Linked DNA regions of Homo sapiens. The protein of the gene in region 4 purifies or fractionates together with the protein of the main gene of each other region. This does not show direct contact. Each region holds a gene or a part of one and is shown on either strand. Other genes may lie near its edges. The genes, in order: RBM19, RSL1D1, TSR1 and RRP12.

The links.
Region 1: the proteins of RRP12 (region 4) and RBM19 purify together in Homo sapiens (affinity purification with mass spectrometry; 2 studies listed by BioGRID and IntAct, with this or other methods). This does not show direct contact.
Region 2: the proteins of RRP12 (region 4) and RSL1D1 purify together in Homo sapiens (affinity purification with mass spectrometry; 2 studies listed by BioGRID and IntAct, with this or other methods). This does not show direct contact.
Region 3: the proteins of RRP12 (region 4) and TSR1 purify together in Homo sapiens (affinity purification with mass spectrometry; 4 studies listed by BioGRID and IntAct, with this or other methods). This does not show direct contact.

The regions. Positions count from the first base shown.
Region 1 is NC_000012.12:113,823,305-113,830,327, forward strand, and holds part of RBM19 (probable RNA-binding protein 19), read right to left. Parts: intron 18-7,023; coding exon 1-17. UniProt on the Homo sapiens protein: Plays a role in embryo pre-implantation development.
Region 2 is NC_000016.10:11,841,524-11,848,546, forward strand, and holds part of RSL1D1 (ribosomal L1 domain-containing protein 1), read right to left. Parts: intron 6,284-7,023; coding exon 6,145-6,283; intron 5,321-6,144; coding exon 5,172-5,320; intron 5,080-5,171; coding exon 4,978-5,079; intron 478-4,977; coding exon 384-477; intron 298-383; coding exon 172-297; intron 1-171. UniProt on the Homo sapiens protein: Regulates cellular senescence through inhibition of PTEN translation. Acts as a pro-apoptotic regulator in response to DNA damage.
Region 3 is NC_000017.11:2,333,442-2,340,446, reverse strand, and holds the start of TSR1 (pre-rRNA-processing protein TSR1 homolog), read left to right. Parts: upstream 1-3,989; 5' UTR 3,990-4,019; coding exon 4,020-4,116; intron 4,117-4,306; coding exon 4,307-4,410; intron 4,411-4,716; coding exon 4,717-4,936; intron 4,937-5,052; coding exon 5,053-5,187; intron 5,188-5,550; coding exon 5,551-5,975; intron 5,976-6,730; coding exon 6,731-6,890; intron 6,891-7,005. Other genes in the region: SGSM2 (small G protein signaling modulator 2), read right to left, coding at 2,702-2,758. UniProt on the Homo sapiens protein: Required during maturation of the 40S ribosomal subunit in the nucleolus.
Region 4 is NC_000010.11:97,398,329-97,405,828, forward strand, and holds the start of RRP12 (RRP12-like protein), read right to left. Parts: upstream 3,013-7,500; 5' UTR 2,904-3,012; coding exon 2,765-2,903; intron 2,207-2,764; coding exon 1,977-2,206; intron 1-1,976.

The DNA.
Region 1 (7,023 bases), on a different chromosome or scaffold from region 4:
CTTTTTCTTCGGGGGCTCTGTGGGAGCCCAGATGGCAAGAGAGGAGAAAAGAACAGCCGAGAGGGTTGGGAGGCAGGAAGAGAGAAATGACAGAGGAAGGAGGGAGAGGGGAGAGATGAGCAGAACAAGGGTGCGGGGAGACAGAACAGAAGCGAGAGAATGCAAGAGAGGGAAGTTGGGGAGAGCGGAGGGAGAGAAGATACAGAGGGAGGTGGAGAGAGGATGGGGCAATGAAGAAAGATAAGGAGTAGGGGAGAGAATCAAAGGGGAAATGAGGAGGAGAGAGAAACACTAGAGTTAGTCTCAGCATCACCATGGCGGGGCTGCCTCCCTCGCACCCCCAGAAACTCTCCTGCTTCCCTGGCCATCCCCTCCCCATCTTCTACCCGCAGGGGAAAGGATTCCCTTGAGAAAAAAGAGAGAAAGGGTCTCCTGTGCTGCTTCCTCACAGCAGGTCAGAGCTTGGCTTGGAGGAAGCTGAAACCCTTCAGAGAGGCTGGACCAAGCAGTGGACAACGGCTGGGGAGACAAGTAGAAGTTGTTTCTGTTTTCTTGGAGGCCAGGCTAATGGTGCAGTACATGGCTGGCATACAACAGGTGCTCGATAAGTGGTGGGTGAATAGAACAGATGCAAAGCTCAAGGATTCCAGAGGAGGCGTGGAGGGAATGACAATTAGAGGTGGCTTTGAAGAGGAGGACTATTTGACTTGGGCTTTGAAGAATGCAGAGGAGTTTTCTGTGAGGAGAGGGGATTCAGGGTCATGAAGAAAAGCACGGAGGTAGGAAAGGGCATGGTGGGCTTAGCCCCACAAGCACCTCCTGATTAGGTACCATCATGAACCATGGCTCCACTCCTGTCAGCAACCCCACAGGCAGGTGGTATGCTGCCTCTTGTAGGAGACGGAACTGAGGCACGGACAGGCAGGTCTGAAGTCACTCAGCTAAGAAGCGGTGGAGCCAGGATTCGAACCCCAGTCACACCTAAGCCCACAGTCTTTCTGCTTTTTATGAAAGTCTCGGGTTCTAGGCAGAGAACTCCAAGGGGATCAATGGTGGCAGGAGAGGACGTGTGGGGCCCCTTGGCCCTCCAGGAAAAGAGCGAGGTTGGAATCCAGGCTGGCTTCCTCTGTCAGTCCCTCTGCTAGTCTAACCACTTGTCGATGAGCAGCCTTGCTCACAGATAAGGCTTGATTTGTACAGAGGCAGTGTAAAGAGGCTGTCCAAATCCCCTCCCTTTCCATGGCTCAAACACCTCCCCAAATAAACCACCCTGAGGCCCTTTACCTCCATTTATCCGCAGGCTGTGAGCTCCCTGGAGCTCACAGCAGCGGCCTAGCCTTTTCTACTGAGACCTCCCCAGGGCTAGCACAGTGCCTGGCCCAGAGATGAAGACTTGGTTTCCCTCTGCGTGTTCCTGGGTGAGCGATTTCACCTCTCTGAGCCTGTTTCTTCAATCTCGTCCCTCCCAAATCAATTCAAACATTGAACCCGTTTCTCATCATCTCCACGGCTGCACCCCAATCCAAGTACCTCTCAGCCCCTCACTAGAGACCCCCCTCCCACCAAGGGATCCCTCTAAAACATGTGCGTCAGATCCACCACTCCCTAAGAAAGCCCCAAGTTCCTCTGGAGGCATCACTGGAGCTGGCCCACCTCCCCCTGCTCAAGACCTTTGCACCGGCAGCACCCAGATCTCCCTCTCCCTCTACCTCTGAGCTCCAATGCCACCCCACCCCCTGGCACTTTTTATTACCCACACTGCCGCAGGCCTTTCTTTGTGTGGGATGTTGTCTCACTCACTGCTGTGTCCCTGGCCTTAGCACACTGCCTGGTGCCTAGCAAGTGCTTGTGAAATATCCCAGAAAGGGGAATGAGCGGACGGAGCAAGGGTGAGAGAGAGACGGCAGAGCCTGCCCCATGGTGAGCGTGCAGAAGGTGCGGGAGGTGCCCACCTGCCTGCCACCTGAGAGCCTCAAGGCCTTGCAGCTCTACCCATCATTGTTAATCATGAAAAGGGAGAGGGGGACAGGGTGGGCTGGGGTGGTGGGGGCTGGCGGCCCGGGGCTCGGACTCCGGCTTCCTCTCCTTCCTTGTGACCTCCTAGACACTCTTGGTTTCCTTATAATCGCCAGCCCTGGAGGTGCACAATGGCCTCTGGAAATTGAATTTGTGGGCAGGTAATAGGAACTGGAAAATAGAACGCAACAAAACAGGGCCCACAGGCGATCACTGACGCCCCTCCCATCTGCTAATATGAGTTGGGGATGGCAGCTCACTCCTGGGGCAGGGTCCCTGCCTTCCTGGGCCAGGCCTGGCCTGGGGTCTAAGGGATGGCCAGCGGTGGCGGCATGGGACTTTTTCTTCTCTCCCACATCCTGACAACTTGGAGGGACTGGCGAGGGGCGAGTTCTAGCCCCATCCATTGTGTCGGCTCAACCTGTAAGATAGAGCTGGACTTGGGGTGCTTCTTCCCCATGCTCCTGCACCCCTGGGCCGTGCCACCATTGCCTCTGGCTTCCTCTGCCCTCCTCCCAGGAGTCTGGTCTCAAACGGCAGCCAGAGGGAGCTTGTTAAATCCTCCATCACGGCATGCTGTTCCTTTGCTCAAGCCTCCAGGGGCACCATCTCACCTGGGGAAAAGCTAAAGCTGTCACGTCGGCTGCCAGGGCTACTGAGCAGGCCCTGCCACCTCTCTGCTTCCCTCCCACTCTGCTCAGGCACTCGGGCCCCTTGCTGGCTCCTGGCTTCCAGCACTCCCACCTCAGGGCCTTGCACCTGCTGTTCCTTTGGTCTGGAATGCTCTTCCTCCACGGAGCCACTCAGGGGCCTTACCTTTTCAGTGAAGCTTCCCTCCTTATTTAAAATTCCAAGTCCTCCAGAGTGCCCTGATGTACACTTCCTAATCCCTTTCCTGTCCACTTCCCCCACAGCATGTCTCCCGGTCTCACTGTGTGTCATGTTTCCACTTTATTATCTGTCTTCCTGGCTGGAACATCTGCTCTAGGAGGGCAGGGGTTTCTGCCTGTTTTGTCCACTGTTCCATTCCCAATGCCCAGAACTGTGCCTGGCACATAGTAGATGCTCAATAAATGTGTGCTGAGCGACTGAGGGAGTGAATGACAGGGAAAATTGAGGGTCAAGTAGTGTAGGTTGCTGAAGGACAAACAGCAGCTGAGACGAGGCCAAGAGCAGTTGTTCAGAGCCTTCATCCATGCTCTCATCCCCTCACATGACGGAGACACCTGCAGCACCTGCTCTGGGTCGGGCATGGTGGGGAACAAGCCTGGCTTGGCCCCACCTAAGGCTTTCTGGTCTGGCAGGGGGAGATGGAGAAAGAACCAGATAGTTGTGCCTCAATTTCTAACCTGTAAAATGGAAATACTAGGGGTTGTGGTGAGGCTGAAATGAGTAAAAAGGGCAATGCCCAGCCCCTGGCTCAGTCGATGGTGCTGAGACCAACACCTGTGTTACTATTATTGATAGGAAAGGTGTTGACTTCGTGTCTCTCTTGGTCTTTGGGGCAGTGAGCACTCATGGGGCGGGGGCTCTTACGCGGAGCCTGGCTTTGTGGCCTTGATGAACCAAAACATCTCATTCCTTTACCTGCCAACTATGTACTCATGTATCATAAGCCAGCCTCCGTGCTCCTGGGCCTGGCATATCTGCCAGGGTTCAGGCTGGGCCCCCAACTGCCCCCTGGAGGACATGTCAGGCCCCGAGTTCCCACCGAATGACACCCCGCACCTCCCGCTGGCCCTGCTTCCTTGAGGAGCACCCTGTTTGCAGCGAACAGCTGCTGAAATCCCACTTCCCCGACATCAAAAGCCTCAGTGGGTTTTCACCAAACAAACATAATGCAGAACCGGAGAAAGGTGTAAAATAAATAAACGAAACAAGCTGTGCATTTTCTTTCAGTATTACAGCTGCACCCGAAGATAAACAACAAGTGAATGTCACCAAACATCAATACCCGAGAAATTAACTTGACAAAAAGCTCAGCCATCCCCCGACAACCCCCCAGTCCTGCCCCCCTCCCCACCAACCTCCAACCACCATTTTTGCATTTCTGGAGTTCCCACCTAATGATTTTATTTTTCAATTAATTCCTTGACAGAATGCCAGCCTGTGTCTCTCCCTTCCCTGGCTGGCGCTGTCGGCCCTGCATGGGAGGCGCAGGCAGGCAGGGAGAAAGGCGCAGGCAGGGAGAAAGGGCGGGGGGGCGGGGGGGTGCGTCGGGAGGACAAGAGAAAGCGCTTCTTGGGGTTTTGTTCTGGAAGCAGACGTTGAGGAAAGGCAAGCCGGGGGAGAAGAGCGTGGCTGATAAGGGGAGAAGGGAGTTCTGAAAGGAACCCTGGGATGAGGCAGGCGTGAACAGTCCGGGGAGGGGAAAAGCACTGGGCCAGGAAGCCCAGGGCTGGATTCTGAGTGGAGAGGCCTGAGGTACAGGGTGGAGGGTGCTAGATGCAGGGTGCTGGGTGGGTGAGCTGCCAGGATCAAACCCTGCTGCTCCTGGCTGGGCAACCTTGGGTAAGTTGCTTCACCTCTCTGGGCTCCTCTCAGTTTCTGCAGTTACTGAATGGTGATGAAATCTACACGCCTAGGGTGTGTGAGGGTATTAAAAGAATGAATATATGTATGTAAGGCCCTCACAATAGTGCCTAGCACACGGCAAGCTGTCAATATAGGTTGGTCATTCTTACTGCTGTTGATGGAATCTGTTACTGAGAGCACGAGGGTGGGCTGCTCCCCTCCTCTATAACACGATGATAGCAACAGCAGCTCTCGACTCTGTCTCAAAAAAAAAAAAAAAAAAAAAAGTGACCAATGGGATGGAGCAGGGCCTCCCACTGTGGGCCCACAGAAGAGTGTCTGGATTTGCTGACATGATTTGCCATGAATACAGAAATCAGTGACTAATGTTCAAAAACAGGGAGATGCTACATAAGAATCTGCACCTCTCGTTTCTCTTGAACCTGGAATGGCTAACCTGTGAGTGTGGCAGACCTGTCCCCTCCCTGCCTACAGGTAACTGATGAGGCTGTGCACTAGCTGCCCCTGGAGACACGCAGCCTCACTTATGGGGGCTTTTCTTCCTGTTCCTGGAGGCTCCTGAGTTGCTACTTCCCGAGACACAGGATAGGCAAGGCTTCCACAAACTCCGCTAAGTCGGAGACAGAACTGATTCCAAGAGGCCGGGGTGAAGGGCAGGGGGCGGGGGCACAGGTGGGCGAGGGGAGGAAGGAGGTTGGGGCAGAGTGTGGAGGCCAGAATGAGGCTCCACAATCTTCAGACTCAGTGGTGTGCAGTCCTAGGCTGCTGGGGGACACCAGCCACCTGTAGCTCCCACCCTTGGGGAGTATGAGGGTGCCATGATGTGGGTACCGCAGGGGGGCTGGGCACCCGGGGGCTGGCCTGGCTTGGGAGGCTGCCTGCTCTGGAAGGCTGGCTGAACCAGACCCCCACCCTCAGCTGCTGGTGCCTCTGCATGGGTCTCTCCCTGTCCTCCCTGGCTTCATATCTTGCAGCCCCCACGGGCAGAGCTCTCCTACCCAGATAGGTCTGCATCTCAGGGCTCTGTGTACAGCAGGCACACATCAGGTACGCACAGAATAAAGGGTACTCTTCAGGAGACTGGCCTGGCTCCTAAGACCAAGCCAATGTCCCTTTATTGATACAGGAGGCTGTTTTAGGGCTGTGCCTTTTTTTTTTTTTAAATAGACAGAATCACACTGTCACCCAGGTGAGTGCAGTGGAGCGATCTCGGCTCACTGCAACCTCTGCTTTCCGGGTTTGAGTGATTCTTGTGCCTCAGCCTCCCAAGTAGCTGGGATTACAGGCGTACACCACCAGGCCCAACTAATTTTTGTATTTTTAGTAGAAATGAGATTTCACCATGTTGGACATGAGCTCAAGTGATCCACCCGCCTTGGCCTCCTAACGTGCTGGGATTATAGGCATGAGCCACTACGTCCAGCCAGTTGTGCCTTTTTAAAACACAGCGAGTCCTTCTAAGAACTAGGTATGATCTGAGAGGGTCCTTGTGCAGAGCGGGTGGGCAGGAGCCTGGGCCGCAGACTGGCCTCTGCCACTGTGGGACTCCCAGGAGCTGCTAAGCTCCTTACCTCAGTGTTCCCACCTGTTAAACGGGGACGGTGCCTGCTCTGCTTATCTCATGGGGACCGTAAGGATTCCTGCCTTCAGTCACTCTTAGCAAGCATGACCCAGCATATTCTATGTGCCAGGAATGATGCTGGGGATATGGCAGTGAACAAAACTCCACAGGATAAACTAAACCACCAGCCATGGGGGCCACACTGGGGCTCAGGGTGGACAGGACGAGGTGGGACCTGAGTGCTGCCACTTGGTGGTCCCAGCCTTCTCTGAGTTACCAAAGTTACTCTTCTGCAGACAGGACACAGTAGTAGCACCCACCACAGGGGATTTGATGAGATAAAGCATGAGAGCACTTAGCCCAGGGCCCGGCCCGTTGAGGTGCCAGGCAAACATGAAAGCTAACAATCAAAGGGTCCTGTGAGGCCACCCCAGAGGACAGGCAGTGCCCAGCAAAGGGGAAATCCAGCTGCCCAAGATAAGGCCAAGGGGCGAGCTGCAGGGACCACTCCTCAGGCGCCTGCTGGCTCTAAGCAGCAGGCTGGCTCTGGACTTTCCTACAGAAATTCCACCAGCTAGGCAACATCATTGTCCCACTTTTCAGATGAGGAAGCAGCCGCACTAGGACTCTGAAGAGTCAAGTGGTCACACTTTCCAAGCAGGACCTTGAGCTCAGATAGGGTTGGCTCCAGCCTTACTGGCACAGCATAGCAAAGCCTGCCCCGCAGAGGGGGACACTAGCCCAGCCTCCCTAGGATGGGGGTCTCAACAGGAAAAGCATGAACAGACCCAGGCTATGTAGCAGCAATTTCCTTTTCAAAGGCCATTGGTTCTCAATCCAGCTGTCTGGTAGCATCAGCTAGGAACCCACTGATGCCTGGATCCTACCTCCAGAGGTTCTGATGCAAATGG
Region 2 (7,023 bases), on a different chromosome or scaffold from region 4:
AAAGTGACAAAAGCATACCCATTTTACCTCATGTAAAGTGACAAAAGCACAACCACCACAAAACCAGAAGATAACTGAAAAGTCGGGCAGCGATGATGGTCTACTTCTCTCCTAGTGACTGAATTTACACCCTTCATTATTCATTCTGTAAGTATTTAAAATTCTACTAACTTTTTTCTTCTTATTAAGCAAAGATCTTTTGGTGGCTTCATCCCAATTGCTGACAAACGAGGAAAAGATGGGAAGTGCAGCCGATTTCTCAGTTTTCACAAACAGGAGTTTCACGCTCTCCCACTTCTGAAACAAAGAAAAGAGTAACATCGTCTACATATACTTTGTTTCTTTTAAATGAACAATCAATTGATGCACCTGTAATACTGTACCTCTGGCAATTTTTCTGAAAGTCCTTTGGTGACAGCAACAATGTTTTCAATGATGTGCTCAATTTGCATTCCAACGTGACCAATACGTATAGCACTGAAATTTAATATAGTATTAGACAAGATTTTAAAAAACCATTTTTCAAAATAAACCAGGCAGGTATATGAGAAATATAAATACATAATCCTCAAGTTTTTCTTTTTCTTTTAAAAAGGTAGAAATATTAATCCCGGGCAACATGGCAAAATCCTGTCTCTACCACACTAACAAAAATTAACTGGGCATGGTGGTACATGCCTGTAATCCCAGTTACTCAGGAGGCTGAGGCAGAAAAATCACCTGAGCCCAGGAGCTCAAGGCTACATACAGTGAGCCCAGATCTGGCGACTGCACTCCAGCCTGGGTAACAGGGAAAAACACAGTCTGAAAAAAAAAACAAAACAAAAAAACAAACAAAAAAATCCCATTAAAATCTTTAGGTTCTAAATATATTTTATTTCATTTTTGAGACAGGGTTTTCCTGTCGCCCAGGCTGAAATGCAGTGGCACAATCAACGTACTGGGCTTAAGTAATCCTTCCAACTCAGCCTCCGGAGTAGCTGGGACTACAGGTCACCCAGCTGATTTTTGTATTTTTTGTAGAGATGGGTTCTCACTCCTGAGCTCAAGTGATCCACCAGGCTGGTATGGAACTCCTGGGCTCAAGTGATCCTCCTGCCTCAACCTCCCAAAGTGCTGGGATTATACACATGAGTCACCACACCCAGCCTAAATATGTTTTAAAGGAAGATTATCATCTTTCATGTACTAGAAATTCCTTCTACCTAAAGTAAAATGTCACATCATGAAGGGGTGACTTTTTTTTTTTTTGAGATGGAGTTTGCTCTGTCGCCCAGGCTGAAGTGCAGTGACGTGATCTCGGCCCACTGCAACCTTCGCCTCCTGGGTTCAAGCAATTCTCCTGCCTCAGCCTCCCTAGTAGCTGAGATTACAGGCGCATGCCACCACGCCCAGCTAATTTTTTTTTTTTTTTTTTGAGATGCAGTTTCACTCGTTGCCCAGGCTGGAGTGCAATGGCGTGATCTTGGCTCACTGCAACCCCCACCTCCTGGGTTCAAGCGATTCTCCTGCCTCAGCCTCCCGAGTAGCTGGGATTACAGGAATGCGCCACCACGCCCGGCTAATTTTTTGTATTTTTTTTTTTTTTTTTAGTAGAGACGGGGTTTCTCCATGTTGGTCAGGCTGGTCTCAAACTCCCGACCTCAGGTGATCCGCCTGCCTCGGCCTCTCAAAGTGCTGGGATTACAGGCGTGAACCACTGCGCCCGGCCTAATTTGTGTATTTTTAGTAGAGATGGGGTTTCACTGTGTTGGCCAGACTGGTCTCAAACACCTGCCCTCAACTGATCCACCTGCCACGGTCTCCCAAAGTGCTGGGATTACAAGCGTGAGCCACCATGCCCAGCCGAGGCAGTGATTAAAGAGCTGGTAGCACCTGACTGTGAGGTTAGGCGCATTGGGAGGCAGGGCCAGAGGAGGTTCTACCTTTATCTTAGACAACCCCATGTCGCTGAGTCCGCCTTCAAGCTGTTCTAAAGGGACCTACCTCCAGGAGGGTCACCTGCTCTCTCTATAGTTCTACTGCTCTACCCAGCCGCCATGTTCAAGAATAAATAGTTCTGTGGCTGGGCGTGGTGGCTCACGCCTGTAATCCCAGCACGTTGGGAGGCCAAGGTGGGCAGATCACGAGGTCAGGAGACCGAGACCATCCTGGTTAACATGGTAAAACACCGTCTCTACTAAAAAAATACAAAAAAATTAGCTGGGCATTGTGGTGGGCGCCTATAGTCCCAGCTACTTGGGAGGCTGAGGCAGAAGAATGGTGTGAACCCGGCAGGCGGAGCTTGCAGTGAGCTGAGATCAAGCCACTGCACTCTAGCCTGGGCGACAGAGCAAGAACTCTGTCTCAAAAAAAAAAAAAAAAAAAAAAAAGAGTAAATAGTTCTTGTCCCTGGTGGAATAGTGTCTTTCAGCTACGAGCAAGACCATCCCTTCAGGTGAAACAGAGTGCAGGCAGAAGCCCAGTGGGAAGCCTGGAGGGCTCAGCGCTGGGGCCAGAAGGAAGTGAGCCAGAAGGAAGGCTCACTGTCGGCACAGTGTCTGCGGAATGAGGAATGAGACGGACTGTTGCTCCTCTCTCTCTTCAGCCAAAGACTGGGCACTGCCCACTCCCTGTGCCTGTCACCACCTGCCTGCAAGCACACCTGAGCATCCCAGATGGAAAGATGGTGGGGGGGAAGAAGGGAGAGGAACAGAAGTGGAAGAGGAAAATAAATTCTTTTGCTGGGGAAAGGTAAGAGAGGAAATAAAGAATGATTTCTTTTTTTCTCAATTGTCTGCAACTTTCTTTAAGCTGTTGCTTTTGCCTTGGAAAATCCCCAGTGGCAGGAGACTGCTGCTCCTTTACCTGCCTTCATGGTACCATCTTCTTCTCCCAGATACTCATGGGTCCCATAAACAAGGCCTGAACTTCTAGCCAACCACTTCCATGAGCCACTACTTTGACATTAGCCTTTAACCAAAGGGGTAGGGGTCTAGGCTCCGTGACCAACTCTTCTAGGCTACTTCATTACACCTGATGAAGGGATTCCCAGCAGCAGGCTAAAGACAACACCAGAGACCACCTGTCCTGCCCACCAGTACCCTGCTCTGCTCTACCTGGAGACACTCCCCTGGGGTCAGGCCTCCCTGGTGAGCAGAGGCAAGAAGTCTGTGTTGTTTTCTGCCGACTGTGTCCACTGGGTCTGCACGGCTCCTGGGGAATCTCTGGGTGGAAGGGCAGTGGCCTACAGCTCTGCCTTACTGGCAGCTAGCCATCTCCACACCGCAGTCAGCAAGTGCAGTACTTCATAAAATGTATTTTCAATACATTTAAAACCTGCCCTACCTCCCCAAGCTGATACACTGCCAATAATACAAACTTAAGTCACTTCTCAGCCTAATAAAATAGCCTGAACCGCATCCTTTGCTCAGCCAGAGGTTGGAAGCAATCACTGCCCTAAAACATCTGTTCTAGTAGGTAAGACTAGGTGTGGGGGCTCCGCCTAGCTCAGTATCCAGGGTAAGGTTAAACCAATATGACAACACACACACCAAATAGGCAGATGAACAGGATAAGTGCTGAATTCATTTAATAGGAAGTTAAACCAAGAATGAGGTGGATCTTCACGTTAAGGGGTAATATGGTGCTTTTAAAGGACAATCTGAGGCCAGGTGTGGTGGGTCACGCCTATAATCTCAACACTTTTGGAGGCCAGGACAGGAGGACCGGTTTTGTCTAGGGGTTCAAGTCTAGATGGGGCAAAATAGTGAGACCCCGCCGCTACAAAACATTGAAAAATTAGCCAGGTATGGTGATGTGTGTCTGTAGTCCCAGCTACTCAGGAGGCTGAGGTGGAAGGATTGCTTGAGCCAAGGAGTTGGAGGTTGCAGTGAACTGTGACTGCACCACTGAGTGCAGTGGCACGATAAAGGACAAGCTCAAAGCCTAGAACTAGTCATGTTCTCCAAGCATTCATCTTACTCTCCTTGCTTTTCTTAGTATCTGGAGCTGCCCCGTCCAATGCAGTGACCATCAGCCACTAGCCACATGTGCCTATTTTAAATTAACTAAAAATTCAGCTTCTAACACAGTAGCCACATTTCAAGTGCTCAATAGCTACATACAAATAGTGCCTACTGTATGAGACAGCACAGATGCAGGCCATTTCCATCACAGTAGAAAGTGCTATCAGACAACATTGTTCTAGAGAACTGAACTTTTTTTTTTTTTCATTTAAAGACAGTCTTGCTCTGTCATTCAGACTGGAGAACAGTGACAAGAACATGGCTCACTGCAGTCTTGACCTTCTAGGCTCAAGTGATCCTCCTGCCACAGCCTCCTGTGTAGCTGGGAGCACAGGGATGCACCACCACACCTGACTAATGTTCTTGATTTTTCTGTAATTGGCTGGGGGAGAGGGTCTCATTATGTTGCCCAAGCTGGTCTTGCACTCCTGGGCTCAAGCGATCCTCCTGCCTAGGCCTCCCAAAGTGCTGGGATTACAGGCATAAGCCACTGCACCTGACCCGAGAATTGATCACTTCTGAGGAATAGATTTTAGTTTTAAAAAAGGATCTGGAGCCATTAACAAAATCTTTTTAAAAAGGCCAGGTGCAGTGGCTCACGCCTGTAATCCCAGCACTTTGGGAGGCCAAGGCGGGCGGATCATGAGGTCAGGAGATCGAGATCATCCTGGCTAACTCGGTGAAACCCTGTCTCTACTAAAAATACAAAAAGAAATTAGCCGGGCGTGGTGGCAGGCGCCTGTAGTCCCAGCTACTCGGGAGGCTGAGGCAGGAGAATGGCGTGAACCCAGGAGGCGGAGCTTGCAGTGAGTCGAGATGGTGCCACTGCACTCCAGCCTGGCAGACAGAGTAAGACTCCATCTCAAAAAAAAAAAACAAAAACAAAAAACAAAACAAAACGAATAAGTATATATAAAATCATTGTCAAATACAAGATTAAAAGAGGCACACATGAATGCCTTTTACCTACCTGCAAGAACCACTTTTAGAAATGTTTAAGACTGTTCCACCTATACAGTCATTGATCTCTCTTGATAAATTCTTGGACAGAAGGTTTACAGATACTGGAACTCTACAAAATAAACACACAGGCATTCAGAACACAATGCATACACACCTAGAAGCTTCATGCTGCTAAAGTCCAGTCATTACTAAGAAACTTACTTCTTTCTTTGATAGAAATGTCTCCCAATGAGTGAGGGTAAGAGCCGCCTAATTCTGGCATCAGTAAGGAAGAAATCAAAACTGCTCAGAAGGCGGAGCTTGGCTTCATAGGATTTATATTCCTTCTTTAGAGTTTGGAGGGAGATAATCTAGGAAGTATAGAGAAGAATAAAAACAAGAAGTTAGGAATCTAAACAAGGAGAAGAAATACTTAGGCAACAATTTGGATTTGGATTTAAAAATGTCCTAGAGCCATGCCTCTATACTTTAATGAACACTTGAGGGCCTAAAATGTGCCAGGCACTACGCTACATGCTGGGAACACTGAGACAAATGAGAAAAGACCCCAGCTAAAGCAACTTAGATCTAGGTGGGCAACATATATATATTATTATACATATGTTGCTGTATGTGCTTACGCCTGTAATACTAGCCCTTTGGGAGGCCGAGGTGGGTGGATCACCTGAGCTCAGGAATTCAAGACCAGCCTGGCCAACATGGTGAAACCTCGTCTCTATAAAAATATAAAAATTAGCCGGGCATGATGGCAGGTGCCTGTAATCCCAGCTATTCGGTAGGCTGAGGTGGGAGAATAGCTTGAACCTGGGAGGTGGAGGTTGCAGTGAGCCGAGGTCCTGCCATTGAATTCCAGCCTGGGCGACAGAGCGAGACTCCAAACAAACAAAAAAACTTAGATACCTTAGATCCAGAGGGTAATAAAGACAAGTACACCAACTACAAAACAGCAAATCAGAGAAAAACAAGATGCTGTGGAAGTACAGAGGAATGACACGAGCCACCTCTTTTATAATTTGCAAGATATAAAAGCTACTGATGTACACGCCACCACAAATTAAATTAAAAAGAGAAAAGTAGAAGAAAAATACTAGGAAATATAGCAATGTATTTGTGATACCATTTCGCCTGAATTAAATCCTCTAAATAACTTGAAAATATTAACCAGGCTTCCTACCTGAGAAACGGTTTTAATTCCATGCTTGTTTAAAAGCTTTCTATAAAACTGTTCTGTCTTTTCAGGAGTTGAATTGGGTTCATCCTTCGTAAATAAACAGATATCTTCTGAATCTGATCGAATACTATGAGGCAAGGTCCTACAAAATACGTGAAAAGAAACCGAGGAAAGCATTATTACACACATTATGCATGTTTGTATCACACAGAATACGCGATAAACTTAGTGTTATTTAAATAACTTTTAGTCATGCTAGTTAAGCAAATAATGCACCAAGAACAACACTTAAAAATACATTTCATGGCCGGTAGTAGTGGCTCAAGCCTGTAATCCCACACTTTAGGGAGGCCAAGGCAGATGGATCACCTGAGGTCAGGAGTTCAAGACCAGCCTGGCCAACATGGTGAAACCCTGTTTCTACTAAAATTATAAAAAATTAGCCAGGCACGGTGGTAGGTGCCTGTAATCCCAGCTACTTGAGAGTCTGAGGCAGGATAATCGCTTCAACCCGGAAGGTGGAGGTTGCAGTGAGCCAAGATCGCACCACTGGACTCCAGCCTGGGTAACAAGAGGCAAACTCCGTCTCAAAACACAAAAACAAAAAACAAAACTCACTTTCAATGGCAAGTAAATCACAAAAACACACAGGCCCAAATATCAATTAACACTTGGGATACAACAAGAATTAAAATATACTTAAAGACTTCCAAATGCTTGCATATATAATTATTATACATATGTTGCTGTATGTGCACACGTACTGTAATGCGCTATAAAAACCTAGCTTAATCAGGACAAGCCTGGTTCAGAATTTTACCTTCTTTAAAACTCTTAGCTCCATAAACATAATAACTCTTTCTTCTTTTCCTTTTTTTGAGA
Region 3 (7,005 bases), on a different chromosome or scaffold from region 4:
TAAGCACTGGTGGAAAAAGTCATCATCCTCTTAAAAAATATTTCCTGGCGGTCGCAGTGGCTCATGCCTGTAATCCCAGCACCTTGGGAGGCCAAGGCGAGGTCAGGAGATCGAGACTATCCTGGCCAACATGGTGAAACCCCATCTCTACTAAAATACGAAAAATTAGCTGGGTGTGGTGGCATGTGCCTGTAGTCCCAGCTACTTGGGAGGCTGAGGCAGGGAAATCGCTTGAACCCAGGAGCTGGAGGTTGCAGTGAGCTGAGATCGCACCACTGCACTCCAGCCTGGCGACAGAGCAAGACTCCGTCTCCAAAAAAAAAAAAAAGTATTTCCCATTATCTGTGACTAACCTCCAAAATTGAGCCATATCTATAATCCCAGCATATCCACCTCAAGTGTAGACACAAGTACTTTTCTATTTTGTTTACACTGTTCAAGTCTCTGTCACTAGACTGCTTCCTTTTGCAGGAGAATCAAGATTTCTCTTTTCATTGGGGAGAGCAGAATTGGGCTTAAATGCTGACTTGATACACCCCTGGCCTAAGAAATCCTTTTTTGGGCCTCTTCACAGCAAAGACATAATGAAGCTTCTCCCACAAGCGGGAAAGCTGATGGCTTCAACTACATCTTTACCAAGGGGAGGGGTGGGAACAAACATTAGGGCCTAGTAGCCAGGCCATGGCTAACGCATGAGAACCATCTAGAGATTTCCGGGACTTTTTTTTTTTTTTTTTTTGAGATGGAGTGTTGCTCTGTCGCCCAGGCTGGAGTGCAGTGGCACGATCTGGGCTCACTGCAAGCTCTGCCTCCCGGGTTCATGCCATTCTCCTGCCTCCCAAGTAGCTGGGACTACATTCGCCCGCCACCACGCCCAGCTAATTTTTTGTAGAGAGAGGTTTCACCGTGTTAGCCAGGATGGTCTCGATCTCCTGACCTCGTGATCCGCCCGTCCCAGCCTCCCAAAGTGCTAGGATTACAGTCGTGAGCCACCATGCCCAGCTTTCTTTTTTAGACGGAGAGTTGCTCTGTCGCCCAGGCTAGACTGCAGTGGTTCGATCTTGGCTCACTGCAACCACACCTCCTGGGTTCAAGCGATTCTCCTGCCACAGCCTCCCGAGTAGCTGGGATTACAGGTGCCCACCACTGTGCCTGGCTAATTTTTGTATTTTTTGTTTTTTTCAGTAGAGATGGGGTTTCACCATCTTGGCCAGGCTGGTCTGGAACTCCTGACCTCGTGATCTACCCGCCTCAGCCTCCCAAAGTGCTGGGATTACAGGCGTAAGCCACCGCGCCTGTCCACTTTCCAGGATGTTATGAGAGTCCAGACGCTTCCCCAACCCTGAAACTCTAATTACGGCTCAGCTAAGGTAAACTTTTTTTTTTTTGAGACGGAGTCTCACTCTGTCGCCCAGGCTGGAGTGCAGTGGCACAATATCGGCTCACTGCAATCTCCACCTCCCAGGTTCCAGCGATTCTCCTGCCTCAGTCTCCCGGGTAGCTGGGATTACAGGCACGCACCACCACCCCTGGCTTATTTTGGTATTTTTAGTAGAGACGGGGTTTCACTATATTGGCCAGGCTGATCTCGAACTCCTGAGCTCAGGTGATCCACCCACCTAGGCCTCCCAACGTGCTGGGATTACAGGCGTGAGGTTATATATATATATATTAGGGAGACGGCATAGAGACTCAAGGTCACACAGAATTAGGTCCAGACTATTCCAAAATGTATGCTTTCCAAACACCAGGCCTCGAAGTCTCCAAAATCAGCACATTTATTTACCAAACAGTCACGGAGTGCCTACAGTATGCCAGGCACTGGATACAAGGCAGTGGACAAAACAGAGGGTCTCCTGCCCTGGTGGAGTTTACTTACCAGGCAGACAACAGCCACAGAGGCAGGCAGGGGAAGGAGGCCCAATGTATTCTAAGCTGCGCTGTGGGTTGGAGCTCTCCAGCTCTCATATGGGAGTGAGTCATTCACATGGTCACTGCCCCCCACCCGAAATGGAAATGGGCTTTTGGGCAGGGTCAAGGTAAACGGAGTTAGTAGAGGGAAGGACTACTTCTCTTTCTGAAGTAGGGGGGCTTCCCTCAAAAGGGAAAAACTTCCGAGTGTTAAAAACCATTCCAAACAAGCCCCTGGTCCCTGGCTAAGGAGGTGGGCGTGGAGGGAGAAACTGAGGTGTGCGGCGCACCCCTCCGGCAGCGATCACTCCGTAGCTGGAGGCACAGCGGACGTCGGACAAGGGGGAGCTCAGCCCGCACGACACCCACTTAGGACGTGGGGAAGCTCGGCCCGCACGACACCCACCTGCGCCGCGGGAGCTCGCGCGGGGCCCCGCCCCCTCCCCTGGCGGCGCGGGCACTGAATGGGCAGCTCCGGATCCAGCCATCCCCGCCATCGCCGCCACCCCTCCCCCGGCCTTGGGCTCCCAGCGCCGCTGCCGTCACTGGGCGGGGAGCTGCGGGGCTGCGAAGCAAACAAGCCGGGAGCGCCGGCCGGGTCCCCCGGGCAGAGGGGCGCTGCCCTCCCCCATCCGAGAAAGGGGAAGGAGGCGCAGCCCGTCCAGGACCCGCCCCGCCCGGCCCAGGTTCGGCCCGGGTGCCCGCGCCGGGGGGTGGGCGCGGACCTTTCTGCCCCCTGGGCCGCGCGGGCCAGGGCGCGAGCCCCCCGGGGTTCTTGACTCGACTTTACCTCCTTCTTCACGTTCCACAGCAGTTTCTCTTTGACTGCGTCCTCTGCGCTGCCCATGGTGTGGCAGGAGGCGGCGCCGAGCGGTCCTCAGAGCCCCCGCGCCCTCGCCGCCTCCGCGCCTCTCGGCTCAGCGCCCCACGCGCAAGGCGGAGCCCCCGCCCGCCGCGCTCCCGGCCCGCCGCCGCCGCCGCCGCCGCAGCCACTGCCCGGTGCTCGGCTCCGCAGCCATCTTCCGAGCCCCGCACAGACGTCAGGCGGCAGGCCCGGCCCCTTCCCACAGCCGGAGGGGGGTTGCGCACAGCGACGGGGGATCGGGGCGGGGAGAGGCCGTGCGCGCCTAGGGGCGGCAGACCCGGGCGCGCGCCACGGGGGTCGCTGTCATGGCAACGCACCCGCTCCCGCATGGAGGGCGCGAAGCCGCATTGTGAGCGCTGGCCCTGGAGCCCGCGGCCCCGCGGCTGAGAGCGAGCCTCGGTCCCGCTGAAGCTCCCCTGACTTCTGCCTGCTCCCTCTCCCGACGGGACGGAAAGGGCCGGGGCTCGGGCATGGGGTCCCCTGCGGTCCGAGCCTGCCCACGGCGAAGCCGGTGCAGCCTGGCCCCGTGACCCCTCTGAATCCCCGTCCGGCCGTCGCCGTGCAGTTGTCAAGTTTCTGGGAAGATTAGTGGGAGCGCAGCCGCCCGAGCCCGACGGCCGGAGGGTCGCGGCCAGTCCCCCTTGCCGGGTCGCCACGTCCCACAAGGTCCTTCCCGGCCGCTCCGTGGGAGGCGGGGCGCAGGTTGGAGTAACAGGGACGGGCTTGAGCTGGTACGGAACCGGGCAAGGTGAGAGAAGTGTCTTCCACGCGATTCCCAAGCCTCGCTAGGGAATCGAGGGAGAAGAAAGGTTGCTCAGAGTGATAAAGAACATGCCGTTGCAAACGGAAGAGCAACGTGCCCGAATCTAGGTGACAGGAAGGGCTTAGGCCTTTTCGGCACGAATGGAGCCTTCCAGTCAACATGCTTCTACGTGATGCAGCTTTATAGCGCAAAAAAATGACAATGCAAGGGGTACAAACAGCCCTGCTAGACCAACAGCCCGAGCCTCGACAGTCTACATCCGGCGCCTTCAAGCCCCCAACCACACACTGCGAAGTGGGAAAAGTTCCCAGCGCGGCTTGGCGAACCCGCTAACACGGCGCTCTCACGAGCTGCTGGAAAAGACCTTCGCGAGAGGGCGCAGGGAGTCCCGCTCCCTGGAGGGCCCGCCCCCTTGGAGGGGACCGGAAGCGCTTGTCCTGGCCCGGAAGCAGTGCTGACTCCGTACACGCGCGCTGCGGCATGGCGGCCCACCGCCCCGGCCCGCTCAAGCAGCAGAATAAAGCTCATAAAGGCGGACGGCATCGGGGTCGGGGATCTGCACAGCGGGACGGCAAGGGTAAGGAGATAACGTAGAAGGAATAAGGGCTATTTGGCCGTTATTAACTCTTTTTCCTCATGCCCAGACTGAGCTTCTGTCTCCCGTCTGGGCTCCACGCGAAAGGCCCTTTCTAAGGTGGGCGGAGAGGAGTCCCTTTTCTTGACCTTGTGGGGCCGATCACACCAGCCCCTTCTAATCTGCCATTCAGGCCGTCTGGCACTGAAAACCCTAAGCAAGAAGGTGAGAAAAGAACTCAGCAGAGTCGACCAGAGGCATCGCGCCAGCCAGCTCCGAAAGCAGAAGAAGGAGGCGGTGAGAGGAGCGGGATTTGGGAGAATGCGGCTTCTCTGGTGTTCTAGGTGGCTAATGCCTCGAAGTGGAAAATGAGACCGGGAGGAGGGTCCAGGGACAGAGCATAGCCCTAGAGCACGTGTCGAGCGTGCAGGTCTAGCATTCTTTGCTTTGGTCAGAATTCCTGCCACCCCGCTGGCATACCTGTGGTCTTTTACTAGAGAGATGCTGGTTTTGGGTAGGGGGAGCATCTGTGGGAGTGGAAATGCAATGCTGGAGTGAAGTACTGAGACACTGAGATGTTCTCGGATATCTTTCTATTTTCAGGTTCTGGCAGAGAAGAGACAGCTGGGTGGCAAGGATGGCCCTCCTCATCAGGTACTGGTGGTGCCCCTGCACAGCAGAATTTCCCTGCCAGAGGCCATGCAGCTGCTTCAAGATAGGGACACTGGAACAGTACACTTGAATGAATTGGGAAACACCCAGAACTTTATGCTGCTGTGCCCCCGCTTGAAACATCGGTGGTTTTTCACCTCAGCAAGGCCAGGTTAGAGTATACACCAATATTTTGTATTATGTTTGAGTAGTGGTATTTTTTTTTTTTTTTTTTAGAATAATGTGCTGGTGCCAACCACCTCTTCTTACTGTGTCTTCTATCTGCAGGGGATCTGCACGTTGTGTTAGACATGGCTAAAGTAGCTGATACCATCCTGTTCCTCCTTGATCCACTAGAAGGCTGGGACAGCACCGGTGATTACTGTCTTTCCTGCCTCTTTGCTCAGGGCCTTCCGACCTATAGTAAGTGAGTTAGCATTTATTGTGCACCTTTAATTTGTCAGGCACTATGCCTGGTATTTGATACAGGAATACAACTGATGGATCATATTCAGCTGGTGGTGGGATGTACACATATGGATTAAACTTGATCCATTGTTTACAGATTATCACTCAGGGTGTCTTTTTGTTTTTGGCTGTCCTTTGCCCAGAGAAACAAGGATATGAAGTTTGATTTCACTGTGAAATTCCTTCAGGGTAGTTCAGTGTTGGGCTTCCCAGTGATCTCTGGGCTTGCAACTGAGCTATTAGGTTGTTTGTGAACTGCAGAGGGATTTTTATGTAATGAAGCAGTAGGTCATGAAGCGTTTTCTCTTTCGCTTACAGCACTAGCTGTCCAGGGGATTTCTGGCCTCCCACTGAAGAAACAAATAGATACCAGGAAGAAGCTAAGTAAAGCAGTGGAGAAGCGCTTTCCGCATGACAAACTCCTCTTGTTAGACACTCAACAGGAGGCAGGGATGCTGCTTAGGCAGTTGGCTAACCAGAAGCAACAGCATCTTGCTTTTCGAGATCGGCGGGCCTACCTATTTGCCCATGCTGTTGATTTTGTTCCTAGTGAAGAGAATAACTTGGTGGGCACCTTGAAAATTTCAGGCTATGTTCGAGGGCAGACTCTGAATGTCAATAGGTTGCTGCATATCGTTGGATATGGTGATTTCCAGATGAAACAGATAGATGCCCCCGGAGACCCTTTCCCTTTAAATCCTAGAGGAATTAAACCCCAAAAGGACCCAGACATGGCAATGGAGGTAAGACTGATATTCTTAATTCATGTTCATATGAAAGTTGGCACAGGAAGGAAACTTAAATTCAGAGAAGATAGTCTGTACACTTAGGTGAATGAGGAGACTGCTAGTCTGAAGTAAGGCAATAGTCAGTTATAAATAGGTTGATAAATCACATATTTATCCAGCACTTTCTAGGTAGTCTGCACTGTGATTGGCTCTGAGTTTATAGAACACACTCAAGATGTGGTTGCTTTCCTCAAGGGACTTAATTGGGCTGGAACAAAATGGCATGTGTGAAATAAAGATTGAGATAGCATATGGTTAGAGTGCGGACCAGCAGTGGAAGTTGAGAAAGTAGACTAGCAAGCTTCACATAAGAGATCAGACTTGAGCTAGGTGTTGAGAAGGATAAATGTGATTTATGAGTTGAAGAGGGATAAAAGAATATCCTAGAAGATAAGAGACAGAATGAACCTAGGCACAGTGGTGGATCAAAGGGTTTATGTGAACCTTGAAGAAATCAGCTTGATGGGAGTGAGGTACGTAATAAATGGATAGGAGTGGGAGCAGATTAAGAAAGACCTCAAGAGCCAAGCAGAGACTTAAAATACCCTGGAAATTAGAAAACAGCCATTGGAAAAGTTTTGACAAGTTTTAGCATTCTGTCGCACTCATCTTATACATGAGGACTGATATTTCTGGGTCTTTCTGGTTACTGTGTTAGATTTAGGAGATTTTTGGTTCATGGTTGACTATCACCTGCTTTTGGTTTTCAGATTTGTGCTACGGATGCTGTAGATGATATGGAAGAAGGTCTTAAAGTCCTAATGAAGGCAGACCCTGGTAGACAGGAATCCTTGCAAGCAGAGGTTATCCCAGATCCAATGGAGGGAGAGCAAACCTGGCCCACTGAGGAGGAGCTGAGCGAGGCAAAGGGTCAGTATTGGTAAACTTGTCTGTAATTCATCTGACCTGGAATTGTGGATTTTCTGTAGCTGTTCCAAGTGAGGGCCCTATAGGATAGAGTGGGGTGGGGGTATAGTTGAAAGTC
Region 4 (7,500 bases):
CAGGCGTGAGCCACCGCGCCCGGCCTTTTTTTTTTTTTTTTTTGAGACAGAGTCTCGTTCTGTCACCCAGGCTGAAGCGCAGTGGTGCGATCTTGGGTCGCTGCAACCTCTGCCTCCAGGGTTCAAGTGATTCTCGTGCCTCAGCTTCCCAAGTAGCTGGGATTACAGGCGCATGCCACCATGCCAGGCTAATTTTTTAGTAGAGATGGGTTTTCACCATGTTGGCCAGGCTGGTCTCAAACTCTTGACCTCAAATGATCTGCCCACCTCGGCCTCCCAAAGTGCTAGGATTACAGGTGTAAGCCACTATGTCCAGCCTGAAAATTTAGTTTTTAAATTTCAACTACTCATAATTTAAAATATTTGATCTATTTACTAGAAAACATATATTTGTAACAACCTGGCAAATAGGTTCGTAGTAATTCATAGTAGGCAAATCTACTTGTACAACCATAAATGTTATGAACTCTAAATAGACACAAATCAAGTATTTCCAATGAAAATTTAGCATCTAAGTAGGGGTATATGGGTAAATTATACACTAGATTTTGAAGACTTGGTATCATAAAAATAATGCTGTAGTAAAATATACTGATTATACATTGAAGTGATAATATTTTAAAGATACTGAGTTAAATAAAGTACATTATTAAGATTAATTTGGGCCGGGCGCAGTGGCTCACACCTGTAATCCCAGCACTTTAGGAGGCCGAGGCGGGTGGATCACCTGAGGTCAGGAGTTTGAGACCAGCCTGACCAACATGGAGAAACCCTGTCTCTATTAAAAACAGAAAATTAGCCGGGCATGGTGGCGCACGCCTCTAATCCCAGCTACTCGGGAGGCTGAGGCAGGAGAATCACCTGAACCCAGGAGGCGGAGGTTGCAGTGAGCCGAGATCGTGCCATTGCACTCTAGCCTGGACAACAAGAGCGAAACTCCGGCTCCAGAAAAAAATAAAAAGATGAATTTATTTTACCTGTTTCTTTCAGTTTTTAATATGGCTACTAAACATTTTTAAATTACATATGTGGCTTGAATTTAGATTACTATTGGACAGAGCTGGTCCAGGAAGACAGACAATGACCCATTAACAGGAGCTCTGTGAATGATTCAAGTTGGGGGATCTACCATCACATTATATTATTCTTATATCATTTTGATATCATTTAGAATTTTGACATTTTTTATTTCAATAACAAAAAATATATATAACTTTATAGTATAGATAAAATAATAAAAGTAAGGCCAGGCACGGTGGCTCATGCCTGTAATCCCAGCATTTTAGGAGGCCAAGGTGGGCGGATTACCTGAGTTCAGGAGTTTGAGACCAGCCTGGCTAACATGGTGAAACCCCGTCTCTACTAAAAATACACACACACAAAAAATTAGCTACTTGAATAATGCACTATTTAAATATACTAAAAAAAAAAAAAAAAAAATTAGCCGGGCGTGGTGGCACATGCCTGTAATGGCAGCTACTTGGGAGGCTGAGGCAGGAGGATTGCTTGGGCCTGGGAGATGGAGGTTGCAGTGAGTGAAGATTGCGCTACTGCACTCCAGCCTGGCCAACAGAACGAGACTCTGTCTCAAAATAAATACATGAATTAAGTTAAATTAAAGTAAATAAATTTAGTTCTTGCTAGATAAAACGTTTCCTAATCACTGTTACTCAGCATTTATTTACTCAACATATGTTTATTGAAAATACTCTGTGTAAAAGTGCTGTGTTAGGTATAGCTGAGGAGAGAAATGTTTGGAAAATATTTCTACCCTCAAGTACTTAAGCAGAGGAGATGTTCTTATAAAAAGCAGAAAGTAGAACCTGCCCTAGGAGGAGACATAAAGGGGAGGAGCGATGACGCATCATCCAGAAATACCAGCTGTTGTCATCGGAGACCTGTCGGCCAGAGCTGAAGAAAAGGCATGAGTTGGCCTCTCCTCACTATCCTATGGCCCTCCCGACCCTCGCCCCTACCTCCTTGTGGGCAGCCGAGTTGGACTCCCAGAAGCGCTGTACTTTGCTGAAGGTGACGTTTGTGCAGTCGGAAAGGCCACTCAGGAAGGTACCCGAGGACTTCTCGGTGAGAACCAGCTCCGCCTCTTCTTCCATGGGCGTCTCCGGGGCTTCGCTTTTGCCCAAGCGCAAGGACCCTGACTGCAGCTCATTATGTAACTTCACAGCATCGACTGTCAGGTCACTCCTTCCTGAGAGCCAGAGGCACAAGATAAGGTCCAAGCCTCCTTTTGGTCAAGAGAACAGAACAACCCCTGGGAAACAAACCAGCCCAGGCCAAATCTCCAACCCGAGAGGCTGAATTCTGAACACAGCCAGTCTCATAAAACCACTGTATGCCTAAAAACTTGAAAAACCAAGGAGAAAGGGAATCCTCCATGTAAAAGTTTCTGCTTCCCTGTAGCAGCGGCATAAACGCCACTGGGAATCGGCTGGGAGCTACATTCAGAGGGCCTGCAAAATAAATGAAGGTGAACGCGCTCTGTAAAGAGCTACCCAAGGTCCAAGCCATCTGTCTCAACTCTGACACCCGCGGTACCTTACACAAGACATTTCCCTACTGCGGACCTCAGTTTCTGTATCTGCTAAATTGGAAGGACTGCCCTTCAGAGAGGGCTCCAGATCCGACATCCTAAGAGACGAAAGGTCCAATGCCTGGCCCCGCACTCTCCCAGAGGCCCCAGACTCATCTGGACCCAGGTCTGCCTGGAACCCCGCCCCCGGCTGCGCTCGGGTCTCAACCCAGCTACCTGACGGCCGGCTGAAGAAGCGGCTGCGGGCGGCCTGACGGTGGCGGCAGATGGCGGGGTTGCTGTCGCTGCTGTGGCCTTTCTTCCAGCGCTTCAACTTAGCTGAGACACCAGAAGGCAACTTTCCCGAGCGACCCATGTTGACTAAGCCGTGGCGAGGAATGAGCTTAAATGACCGGCTTCCAGGGACGTAGAAACACGCTCAGAACCCACGTGGATACCCTGTAGCCTTCACTTCCTCTTCTTCTGGCGTCACTTCCGGATTCGTGTGCATTACTATGGTAAAACAGTCAACATCCGGTTTTACACCTCCTCCTGGCTTCGGATGGGGAGGAGCTCCAAGGAGATCCGTTGCTAGGGAGGAAGTTAGGTTGCTAAGGGTTCTATGGGGTTCTTACTCCAGCCAGGACCAGGTTTCAGGGCCACAGGCGTAAGCCTTATAAAACTGGAGTTTGGCTGAGCGTGGTGGCTCATGCCTGTAATCCCAATACTTTGGGAGGCTGAGGCGGGTGGATCATTTGAGGTCAGGAGTTTGAGACCAGCCTGATCACCAGGGTGAAACCCCGTCTCTACTAAAATAAAAAAATTAGCTGGGCTTGGTGGCGCGCGCCTGTAATCCCAACTACTCGGGAGGATGAGGCACAAGAATCACTTGAACTCGGGAGGCGGAGTTTGCAGTAAGCCGAGATCACGCCTCGGCACTCCAGCCTGGACAACAGAGTAAGACTGTCTCAAAAAAACAAAACAAAGCAAACAAAAAACTGGAGTTCTTTTGCAGTTAAACAACAACAAAAAGTACATTTATATTACATTTGAAAATCTATTTTCAAAATTAAGCATAGAAACACATTTATATGAAAGTCATATACCTTCATATAAAAGTATATATGTAATCCCAGCACTCTGGGAGGCCGAGGCGGGCAGATCACCTGAGGTCACGATGTTCGAGACCAGCCTGACCAACATGGAGAAACCCTGTCTCTACTAAAAATACAAAATAAGCCGGGCGTGGTCGCGCATGCCTGTAATCCCAACTACTGGGGAGGCTGAGGCAGAAGAATCGCTTGAACCTGGGAGGCAGAGGTTGCGGTGAGCTGAGATCACGCCATTGCACTCCAGCCTGGGCAACAAGAGTGAAACTCCATCTCAAAAAAAGAAAAAAAGAAAAAAAAGAAAAGTCAAAACTTATGGAGACTTGAAAGTGTGAAAATTAGCTTGACTTGAAAAGAGAAAAAAGCAGTCAGTGGTGTTCTAGACAAGCTTTGCTATTTTCATTTATTACTGGAGATACTCAGTTGCTAAGCCACCTTGCCTTATGACAGCATTCCATCCCTAATTAATCCCTGGTTCTCCAATTTCTCTCTCTCTCTCTCTTTTTTTTTTTTTTTTTTGAGACAGAGTCTTGCTCTGGTGCCCAGGCTGGAGTGCAGTGGCACGATCTCGGCTCACTGCAACCTCCACATTTCAGGTTCAAGCAGTTCTCCTGCCTCAGCCTCCCAAGTAGCTGAAATTACAAGCATGCACCACCGCGCCCGGCTAATTTTTTTTTTTGTATTTTCAGTACACGCAGAGTTTCACCATGTTGGCCAGGTTGGTCTCGAACTCCTTTCCTCAGGTGATCTGCCCACCTCCCAAAGTGCTGGGATTACAGGCATGAGCCACCGCACCTGGCATCCGGCCAATTCCCAGTTCTCCTAATTCCACCTCAGAACCAGCAACCGATCCAGTTTATCCCCACTCCCCTGAGACCCTCCTTAAAATCCTTCAACCAGATCCCAAACCTTACAAAAGACACATTTCTCTTCCCTCTTGCCCAGCAGCTTTATTCTAAACCTTTAGCAGCATTCTTTGGAAGAAGATATATAGAACTAACAAAGTACATCTATAATATATAAAGAATTCCTACCAATCAATAAGAACAAGGCAGACAATCCAATAAAAAGAATGGGCAAAAGGGACAGGTGGGTGCAGTGGCTGATGCTTGGCCTGGAATTCCAACACCGTAGGAGGCCGGGGGGCAGGGAGTAGAGGGGAGGAAGGATTGCTCCAGCCCAGGAGTTCAAGACCAGCTTGAGCAACATCATGAGACCCAGTCTCTACAAAACATACAAAAATTAGCTGAGCATGGTGGTGTGAACCTGTAGTCCAGCTACTCAGGAGGCTGAGGTGGGAGCCCAGAGAAAGTCAAGGCTGCAGTGAGCCGTGATTGCACCACTGCACCCCAGCTTGGGTGACAGTGTGAGACCCTGTCTCAAAAAAGAAAAAAAATTAAAAAAAAAAAAAAAAAGAATGGGCGGCTGGGTGTGGTGGCTCACGCCTGTAATCCCAGCATTTTGGGAGGCCAAGGTGGGCAGATCACGAGGTCAGGAGTTCAAGACCTGGCCAACATAGTGAAAAACCCCATCTCTACTAAAATACAAAAAAAATTAAGCTGGGCGTGGTGGTGGGCACCTGTAGTCCCAGCTACTTGTGAGGCTGAGGCAGGAGAATTACTTGAACCCTGGAGGTGGAGGTTACAGTGAGCTGAGATCGTGCCACTGCACTCCAGCCTGGGCATCACAGCGAGACTGTGTCTCAAAAATAAAAAAAAAGAAGAATGGCAAAAGACACAAACAGCTGAACATCATGATGTATTGTACAAAAAATAAAAAAGTCATGAACAGGCACTTCACAAAAATTAATATCCAAATGGCCAATAAATATATGAAAAACAGGCCAGGCATGCTAGCTCACGCCTGTAATACCGGCACTTTAGGAGGCTGAGGCAGGAGGATCACTTGAGCCCAGGAGTTGGAGACCAGCCTGGCCAACACAGCAAGACCTGTCTCCTCAAAAACTAAGAAAAATAGTGGGGTGCAGTGGCGTGCACCCATGGTCCCAGCTACCTGGGAAGCTGTGACAGGAGAATCTCTTAAGCCCAGGAGTTTGAGGTTGTAGTAAGCTATGATAGCACCACTGCACTCCAGCCTGGGTGACACAGTGAGACTTTGTCTCAAGAAAAAAAAAAGAAAAAGAACAGACCAGAACAGAAAAGATACCAGTTTCATTATCAACATGGGAATACAAATTAAAATCACAATGAAATGCCACTACACACCCACCAGAATGGCTAAAATTAAAAAGACTAGCAATACTAATGTTGGTAAGGATGTGGAGAAACTGGCAACATATGCTGCCATTGGAGTATAAAGTGATACAACCATTTTGGAAAACTGTGTGGTAGTATCTACTAAAACTGAATACAGTCTTGCTCCATGACCCAGCAATACCTTCCTGCATATTTACTCAACAGAGATGTTTACTTATATGCAAAAAAGAGATATAGGAGGATGTTCACAATGGAAATAATAAAATGTCCATCAACCGTAGAATGAGGCTGGATGCACTGGTTCACACCTGTAATCTTAGTGCGTTGGGAGGCTGAGGCAGGAGGATTGCTTGAGGCCAACAGTTCAAGACCAATCTGGGCAAAATAGTGAGACCCCATCTCTAAAAAAAAATTAAAAATTAGCCACATGTGGTGGCATGCACCCGTAGTCCTAGCCACTTGGGAAACTAAGGCAGGAGGATCACTTGAGCCCAAGAATTCAAGGTTAGAGTGAGCTATAATCATGCCACTGCACTGCAGCCTGGGCAACACAGTGAGACTCTGTGTCTAGAATAGATAGATAGATAGATAGATAGATAAGACAGACAGGCAGACAGAGAGATAGAGTAGAATGGATAAATTGTGACATATTGATATATAATGGAATACTATAGTATTTGACTCTGTATAGCAATGAGAAGGAACTACTGCTACATATATCATGCATGACCTAGGTTGAGTAAAAGACTCCAGACACAAGAGTACATAGTTATAATCCCATTTATTTATGATTTAATTATTTATTTATTTATTTTGAGACAGAGTCTTCCTCTGTCACTCAGGTTGAAATGCAGTGGCACAATCATGGCTCACTGCAGCCTTGACCTCCAGGCTCAAGCAATCCTCCCACTTCTGCCTCCCGAGTAGCTGGAACCACAGGCATGCATTGCCATGCCTGGCTAATTTTTTTTTTTTTTTAAAGCTAGGGCCTCACTCTGTCACCCAGGCTGGAGTCCAGTGGCATGATCATGGCTCACTATAACCTTAAACTCCTGAATTCAAGTCATCCTCCTGCTTTGGCCTCCCAAATAGCTGGGGCTACAGACACATACCCACCACACCAAGCTAATTTTTTTTTTAAGAGACAGAGTCTTGGCCAGGCGCGGTGGCTCACGCCTGTAATCTCAGCACTCTGGGAGGCCGAGGCGGGCAGATCACAAGGTCAGGAGATCGAGACCATCCTGGCTAACACAATGAAACCCTGTCTCTACTAAAAATATAAAAAATTAGCTGGGCGTGGTGGCGGGCACCTGTAGTCCCAGCTACTCGGGAGGCTGAGGCAGGAGAATGGCGTGAACCCAGGAGGCGGAAGTTGCAATGAGCTGAGATCGTACCACTGCACTCCAGCCTGGGCAGCAGAACGAGACTCCTTCTCCAAAAAAAAAAAAAAGAGACAGAATCTTGCTATCGTTGCCCAGACAAATCTCGATCTCCTGGCTTCAAGTGATCTGCTCGCCTTGGCCTCCCAAAGTGCTGGGATTATAGGCGTGAGCCACCATGCCCTGCTTACATGTATATTACACTTCATGGGCTTACTGAAAATACAAAGTGGGCCGGGGGCGGTGGCTTACGCCTGTAATGCCAACAC